Linked DNA regions of Homo sapiens: region 2 is linked to region 1. The links come from fine-mapping of genetic effects on gene expression. A gene starts in region 1. The other region holds a variant in brackets. All regions are shown on one strand. Distances are between the middles of the regions.

The links. PIP is the estimated chance that this variant, and not a neighbour inherited with it, causes the effect. A credible set is the group of variants that fine-mapping cannot tell apart.
Region 2: its variant is the best candidate, but not a certain one, in a credible set for the expression of CELSR2 in whole blood (TOPMed, PIP 0.64).

Annotation. Positions count from the first base shown.
Region 1 is chr1:109,246,872-109,251,392 of GRCh38, reverse strand. It overlaps CELSR2 (cadherin EGF LAG seven-pass G-type receptor 2), which reads right to left and starts at 1,854. Exons shown (of 34, transcript NM_001408.3): 1 at 1-1,854. The coding sequence starts at 1,313. RefSeq lists silencers at 207-397, 1,496-1,595, 1,756-1,815 and an enhancer at 1,817-2,537.
Region 2 is chr1:109,221,532-109,225,531 of GRCh38, reverse strand. SARS1 (seryl-tRNA synthetase 1) reads right to left here. Exons shown (of 11, transcript NM_006513.4): 2 at 1,484-1,554. Among named protein-coding and RNA genes, the nearest start is that of SARS1, 9.6 kb to the right of the region's middle. RefSeq lists an enhancer at 1-158. The variant T/C (reference allele first, on the strand shown) is at 2,359.

The sequences.
Region 1 (4,521 bases):
ATGCTATAGTGCACCACGGCATTGCTCCCCTTGTCTCGATCCGAGGCTGTGACTCGGAGTACTGGGGCCCCTGGAGTCACATCCTCCCTCACCTGGACCACATAGCGCTTCTCACTAAACTGGGGGGCATTATCATTGTCATCCTCCACAGAAAGGAAAACAGCGGCTGTGGTACTCCGAGGACCCGGGTCCCGACCCTGGTCACTTGCCTCTACCGTCAGCTGGTAGGATTCCACCTCTTCCCGATCCACAGGGCCACGGGTTCGGATCACCCCAGAGCGAGGGTCGATCTCAAAGACTTCAGAGGGGCTGCCCCCAGACCCCTCCAGCAGGCGGTACAGAATATTGGCATTGGGAGGGGCATCACCATCCGTGGCCCTGACAGTGAGCACCTCATAGCCAACCTCCAGGTTCTCCCTGAGGCTCTCCTTGTACTCCTGCTGCTCGAACACAGGGTCATGGTCATTGGTGTCAGTAACCAAGATGGTGAGTGTAGCCAGGGCACTTCGTCGGGGCATGCCGTGGTCCTGCGCCGTGACCCTGAAGACGTGGGTGCTCTTGGTCTCACGATCCAGCTCCTCGGCTGTGGTTACTGCACCAGTGACTGGGTCCAGGGAGAAGAACTGGTTGGAGCGGCTATCAAAGAGGGCATCCATGGTGTACTCCAGTCGACCTGCCTCACCCTCGTCCGGGTCGATGGCCCTCAGGGATGCAACAGGGGTGCCTGCTGGCTGGTTCTCCGGCACTGTGGCCTGGTAGCTGGGGGGCTGGAACTGGGGGGCTGTATTTACATTCCTTTTCCGACGCCCACCCAGGGACTCTTCTGGTGACCTTTCCCCTGCCCTGAGCCCGGGGGCCTGTGCCAGCTTGCAGGACTGGCATCTGAGCCGTGGAGCCTTTAAGCACGGGTGCTCCTCGGGCAGTGTGAGCTTGCCCTGTGGGGAAAGGTGGCCTCCAATGCCCAGGAGGCGACAGCTCCAGGGGCAGCCTTCAGGAGCTGGTGGTAGGGGAATATGGGCCTCGGATTCTGGACACCAAACCCTCAGGCCATCGTGGTGGGGTACCAGGTGGCCAGTCAGCTCAGTGCCCGCATCCCTGCAGCGGCTGGTGTAGAGCCAGAGGTTCGACGCTGAGGATGGACAGAGCCAGCCCATGGGGGCGCAGGCCCCCGAAGAGCCTCGTCCCCTGGACCCCAAGGAACGACAGGGCCCCACTTGGTCTCCCAATAGTGGCGGCGGCAGCAGCAGCAGCAACAGCAGCAGCAGCGGCGGCGGCGGCGTTGGGAGGGGGACGCCGGTGGCCGGGCTCCGCATCTCTCCCAGCTCCCGGCCGGCGGCCGGGTCAACGGCGGCGGCGGCTCCTCCTCCGGCTCCTGCCGGCCCCGCCGCGCCTCATGCCCGGGCCAGGGCGCCAGTCCCCGGGGGCCTCCCGTGCGCCCCGCGGGGCCTGCGTCTGGATGGCTCGGCGGGACCCCGCGCTGCACCCTCCGACGAGCCCGGGCTCCCACTGCCCCCTGAGCCAGACCCGCTCCCGGGTCACCCTGAGCACCGCGGGCTGCCGCCGCGCCTCCACCTGCGCTCCGGGCACTCACCACCTGCGCCCGGGGGCCCCGCGGCGCCCCTGGCCTTGCCGGGCCCCGGGTTCCGGAGCCGGGGTGCCCCCTCCGCCCCTATGGGATCGCCCACCTGCGCCCGCGTAGCCGTGCGCCCCGACCCCGGCCCGGCCCCGGCGGCCCCCGACGGTCCCGCGCCGCCCGCTCGCGCCCCGCGTCCCCGCCGCGGCTGCTGCCTGTCGCCGCGGCCCCGGGCCCAGCCCCGCGCTCCCTCGCCTCCCCGGCGGGCGGGCGAGCTCTGCAGAGTCGCGGCGGCGGCTCATTACCATAGACCTGCTCGCGCCGCGGCCGCCTTAAAGCGGCAACGCCGGCCGCGCTGGAGGAGGTGGGCCCCACCCAGAGCACTCCTCCGCCCAAAGCGCCAGGATTCCCTCCAGCAGGACCCTCCATCCCAATTTCCCCAGGCCGGCCTCGCCAGATGCCCGGTGCGAATTAGCGATCGGAAGCCACACAGCCGATGATAATCATGGTGGAAGTACCCTAAGTATGCCTAGAGGTTTCCAAAACATTTTAAGGGCTCTCAGAGGCCAAGTTTCCAGTTCATTCCAGTCATAAAAGCCCTCGTTGCTGTCCCCTCCCATAGGTCAGACAGAGTTAAAAGGGCCCTGAGCAACACAACAAAGCCTCCAAAATCCCAGAGAAGCACCCACAATGAGTCACCGGGCCCACTCGCTCCCTACCGTCCCCTCCACCCCACCAGCGAGGCTGTTGTCTGACCAGCATGCCCCTTGGGGTCGGGCTGTTGGAAGAATGACCCCAGCCTCATGTTGGACACCACTTGGGCTTTTCCAGGGAAGTAAATTAGAAGGGTCAGAGTGGGTGGAAGCCAGGTGGTGCAAACACACTGTCACCAGATTCGGAGGCCGGCTGCGGTGGAGCCTAGCTTTAACACAGGCTTCCTGGATTCTAGACAAGGGGCTTACACTGCCCCCTGAGGTCCTGTCTAGAGAGGCGGCCTCTCATCCCCTCCTGCCTCCCTGTCCATGTCCTGCGGCTACCCCCTCCTTCCGCCACAGTTTTGTGACCAGCGAGGAGGCCTACCTGGTACCCGGGCTCCTGACCCTCTCCAAGGCAGCTTCATTTGAGAGGGTGTGCAGGATTCCAGGGGTTCTCCAAGAGGACCAGACATGAAGCTGGACCACACGGAGAGCCAGGCAGGAGCCGTGCAGGCGACCCAGAAAAGGCTTCCCTACATCCTGGAGCAGCCAGGGGCCCAGTCAGGTAGTCCCTGGGGGGATGCCCTGGCCTGGGGGGATGCCTGGGCCTGGGTCCCAGCCTCCAACACCACAGCTATGTGACCTTGCTCAAATTCTGTGCCTCAATGTCCCTTTTTGTAAAATGAGGGGATTGAATAAGGTGAATGGTTCTCAAATGTTTATTTAGCAGTAGAATTCTTTTCTTCAAAAGAAATCTGAAGTGGAAGGCCAGAATATAGAACAGATGAGTAGTGCTGCTGGGTTGAAGTGAGGGGGTCAGGGCCTTGCCCCTCTCCACCACTCCCCCAACCAAGAAATCCCTGGGCTGCTCTGTGCAACTTGAGGGTCTGGAGGAACCCATCTGAAAAGCACTGGATCAGGTGCTCCCTTCTACCACTGCCCCCGGTCACAGTGGTGCCACTCTCACTGGGTCACAGCAGAGGATCCCCCAGCCCCAGGCCCAAGGAGTGTCTGTGTGACCACACAGTGAGGCCAAGGATGAGAAATCAGCTTTTCTCTTTTCCCCTGGGGAAACAGGAAAGGAGATGGGCCTTGGGTACAGCAAGAAAGATTAGGGTTAGACTGTGCTCCTGGCAGGATGGATAGAAGTAGGAGGAGGACCCATGGCTCAAGGAAATGCCCTCCCCTTTGACCAAACAGGAGCTTTCTTCCTCTGAGCAAGGCCAAGGGCAGCTCTGGAGATGGAGGCGTGGGTTACACGCCTCCGCAGGGCTCTGCCTCTCTAGACTTCCTCAGACTCTGGAGTTTGGAAGGATCTAGGGGCTGCGTGGGCATTTTGTTCTTCACCTAATAGCCATGTGGTGCAGAGAATGCTTGGAAATTATACCATCTGTTAATTATCCTTTGAATTGGGGTTGGGTAATGAGACTCTCATTTCTGGTGAAGGCCCAAGCCAACCCGTGGAGAAGCTGCAACTCTCCATTCATCTCGCTCCCTTTGTTGCTAAAATAAGCTTTCTGGGTGGGAGGAAAGAGTAGCCCTGGCTCTGGATCACGGAAGGTGGTTCTGGGGCCTTGCACCTTGAGGCAGGGGTTGCCAGGGAAGGCATGAGCTCAGAAGCCCCTTCCAGGTGGGTGGCCTTTCCACCCAAAGGCAGATAGGTTGGGGGATCCAAGGAACCCTTTCCTTCATCCCCAAGCACATTTGGCAAATAGTCCTTAATCCTCCCCAGTCCTCCCTCCGGGGGCACAGGACAGAGCTCTCTCCCCATCACTTCCTCAGATACTTCCAACTCCCAAAAGCAGGAGGGAAATTTCCAAGTTTCATATGCATCACTGAGAGTCTCAAATGAGGGAGGGGTTGCCCTGGTGGAGGCCTCCCTGATCCCCAGGGAAGGGCTGCCTGCTTCATGGAGCTTTCCAGTTGTAAGGAACCTATGGACCTCCCTCCTGTGTGTAAGGGACATTTAGGCCTCCCTTCTGCATAGCTTTTAGGTGCTATCAAGGGGCAGCAAGGGCTTGGGGTCTGTTAAAAGAGAATTTATTGTTCTTCTAGTCCAAACCTCCCACTTCACAGTGGAGGCTCTGGGAAGGAAGGAAACCTGCTTGGCTAGCCTTGCGGCTGTCCTTTAGCTCTGGTGGGATTTCCTTACTCAGGTTGCTTCCTGAGGACCCCCTGGATAAGGCATGGCCCTGGCTTTCAACACAACAGGGTCGCATGGGTGAAGTGCTCCAGAAGCAACTGAGAGAAAAG
Region 2 (4,000 bases), 26 kb after region 1:
GTGAATGACAACACTCACAATCCCATCTTCTTGCTTCAAAAAATACCCAGCTGGCACTGACTGTACATAGGTCCCAAAGAACACCCAGGGAGGAGTATGCATGGGAATTAACATAATTATGGGGCCTCTAGTATGCGAATGACTAAGTCCCACAGAAAGAAACTGGATGATTATCAATATCACTTTCCACAGCTAAAAGTGTTACACGCTGAAAGTGTAACAAAATATTGTCAAAGAGAAAGATGCCGACTGCCATGAAGTTAAGTGTAAGGTGCTAGAATCCCGAGGTCATCTTTTTATGCTCTTTACTGGTGCAGTTCCAAAGTTCTATAATTTTTTGTTGTTGTTGTTTAGTTTTGAGGTTTACAATGTAAAAGTTATCTAGATTGTAAAGTGCATTTAATTAATTAATTTATTTATTTTGGAGACAGGGTTTCACTGGAAACCCAGGCTGGATGGAGCTCAGTAGCGCAATCTTGGCTCACTGCAACTTTTGACTCCTGGCCTCAAGTGATCCTCCCACCTCAGCCTCCTGAGTAGCTGGAACTACAGGCACAGGCCGCCACGTCTGGCTAATTTTTTTGTTTCATTTTATTTTTGTAGAGATGGGGTTTCACCATGTTGTGCAGACTAGTCTTGAACTCCTGAGCTCAAGCAATTTGCCCACTTTGGCTCCCAAAGTGCTGGGATTATAGGCGTGAGCTACTGTACCCAGCTATAATATGTAATGTAATATGATTAAGGGGCTAAACAGGTATTTTTGAAGGAAGGTTAAAAACATGAACTATTCTGGATACCAAAGCAAAAGCTGAGCTGAAACATAGTATTTTTCAGGCATAGGAAGGATTTTTTTTTTGGATGAAGGCCAGTAACATTACTTGCCATTCATTATAACTCACAATTGCTGAACAACTACATGTTCTAGACACTGTGCCAAATTTTCTACATTTAAAAGAAATTTAGTTCTATCCATAACCATTGCTTGGCGTTTAAATTAAAAAAAAAAAGTTCTAACAATTCCATTCTGTAGGTGAGTGTTAGTATTGTCATTTTATAAATGAGAAAACTGAGGCTGAGGCATTAACTTGCCTAAAAGACACATAACGTAGCAAGATTTGAACTCTGAATCTGTAGTTTTCATTATGGAGCATAACTACGCTGAGACGACAAATCTGAAATCTGCCATAAAAAAGATGACTGGTGGAATTTATATTTCTAATATAAGAACAGAATAGACAACAAACAGCTAGACAACAAAGAATCTTACCTGAACACAGAAGATGGACTTGTGGTAAAGTATATGAAAATGCCTCCAAGTTCCCTGCCTCCCTATCTTTTTAAAATAATATTTTCCCCTTTGGTAAGAAATTGAACATCTTGTAGACTTAAACACTGAGTTAGAACTTCTGTGAACATTAGCTAAGAGCAAGATCAAATATCTCCGCTCAAGTTCTCATGGCTGTTTGTTATTCAGTTCTCTTACCTTCATTTTCTCTCCGATTGTCTTGCTGCATAGGTTCTTCAGCTTGTTCAAGTTGTCTGCCCGAAATCTACCTAGGAATAAAGAATCCAAGACTATACCAAAGAAATGCCCATAATTAAGATACTCCTTTCTCCTGATCTTGACTTCTTAGTACTGATTTCAGGTTAAGGCCCAAATGCCGGCAGAGCTGAAGGATCTGCCTCATGAAGTTATAAAATCTTACAGCTTTTTATTTTTATTTTTTGAGACAGCATCTTGCTCTTGTTGCCTAGGCTGGAGTGTAATGGTGCAATCTCGGCTCACTGCAACTTCTGCCTCCCAGGTTCAAGCGGTTCTCCTGCCACAACCTCCCGAGTAGCTGGGATTATAGGTGCCCGCCACCACACTCGGCTAATTTTTGTGTTTTTGGAAGAGACGGGGTTTCACCATGTTGGCCAGGCTGGTCTTGAACTCCTGACCTCGCCCTCCCAAAGTGCTGGGATTACAGGCGTGAGCCACTGTGCCCGGCCTAATCTTAGAGCTTTAGAGCCCCAAATGTAGTTGGCATACAATGGTGACTACAATAGGGTGTCCCCAGCATTTGGTGACAAGGAAAAGACCAATCTGAGGTTAAAATTAAAAAGTATCATAACCTGTATGAAGCCATTATAGAGTAACACATCTGAAAAACTTGGAAGACACTCAAGTAACTAACCTGCCCAATTATCTTAAAACTCATTTAAGGAAACTAGGTGCTATGCACAGGAATCTATAGAGAGTGCAGTCATGATTGCTACCTCTCCATGCTAGAAATGGCTAATGATACCCTTTTACTTTGATATAATGCTCATCTAGCAGCCTTGAGAATAATTTAGTCTCTTATAATTTGGTTTCCT[T/C]TGGGGGAAGACAGGCACTAACTGGTCAACATATTGGCCCAAATTAATATATTGGTATCATGGATCATCAGTCTAACTCTGATTAGCAAAATTTGGACCTCTTGAATCTAAACGTCAGGGGCAATATGATAAAAATTAAGCACAAGGTTTTTTGTTGTTGAGACAGGGTCTCACTCTGTCACCTAGGCTGGAGTGCAGTGGCACGACCTCAGCTTACTGCAACCTCTGCCTTCTGGACTCAAGTGATCCTCCCACCTCAGCCTCCCAGGCAGCTAGGACTACAGGTGTGCGCCACCACACCCAGCTAATTTTTTTATTTTTATTTTTGTAGAGATGGAGTTTTGCTGTGTTGCCCAGGCTGGTCTCAAATTCTTGGGCTCAAGCGATCCACCCATCTTGGCCTCCCAAAGTGCTAGAATTACAGGTGTGAGCCATGGCATCCAGCCAAACTCAAGCTTTTAAGAGGCAAAATTGATGACTAGAAATAAGATAGCACCTAGAGAGCCATTCTTTAAGGCTTTACCAAGAAGCTTTCCTCTTTGATACCTCTTTAACAAAACTTCAATGCAAAATGATATCACTATTTTCTCATTCACTTATTCACATTGATAAAACTATAGAGATGGATAATAGATTAGTGGTTGCTAGGGGTGAGATGGAGGGCAAAGGGAGTAGACTACAAAGAGATAGCAAGAAGGATCTTTGTGGTGATGAAACAGTTCTGTATCTTGAGCATGGCAGTGGTTATACAAATTTACACATGGTAAGATTGCACAGAACTACACACACACATGTGTGCAAAACTGGCAAAATCTGAATAAGGTTTGTGGATTGTAGCAATGTCAATTTCTTGGTTTTAATATTGTACTAGAGTTATATAAGATGTTATCATTGGGGAAAACGGGACCTTTCTACTATTTTTCCAACTTCCTGTAAATCTATAATCGTTTTGAGATTCCCTCCTATTTGCAAGGCACCAAGGTAGGTATTGGGAGTATAAAAGAAAATAAGGCCAGGTGTGGTGGCTCATGCCTGTAATTCCAGCACTTTGGGAGGCTGAAGTGGGTGGGTCGCTTGAGCCCAGGAATTCGAGACCAGCCTGGGCAACGTGGCAAAACCCTGTCTCTACAAAAAAAAAAAAAAAAAAAAAAAAAAAAAAAAAATATATATATATATATATATATATATATATATATATATATACACACACACAAAAAAATTAGCTGAGCATGGTGGTGTGTGCCTGTACTCCCAGCTACTTGGGAGGCAGAGACTGCAGTGAGCCAAGATCATTCCACTGCACTCCAGGCTAGGTGACAGAACAAGACTCTATCTCAAAAGAGAAAAAGAAAAGAAACAAAAAGAAAATAAAACAAAACCAAATATTGTAACAATGCTGAATGTTTCAATCAATGAATATAGTATATCCCTTCATTGTTTTTAATTTCTCTCAGCAATGTTTTGTAGTTTTCAGTATATGAGTCTTAAATGTTATTTATTAGGTATATCTCTATGCACCTGGTGCTTCTAAACTGTTACTTGTATATAGAAGTACCTTTGATTCTGTGTATTGTATCCAGTTATTTTGTTAAAGTTATTTAATTGTAATAGTTCAGATTCTGCATACACAATCAAGTGATCT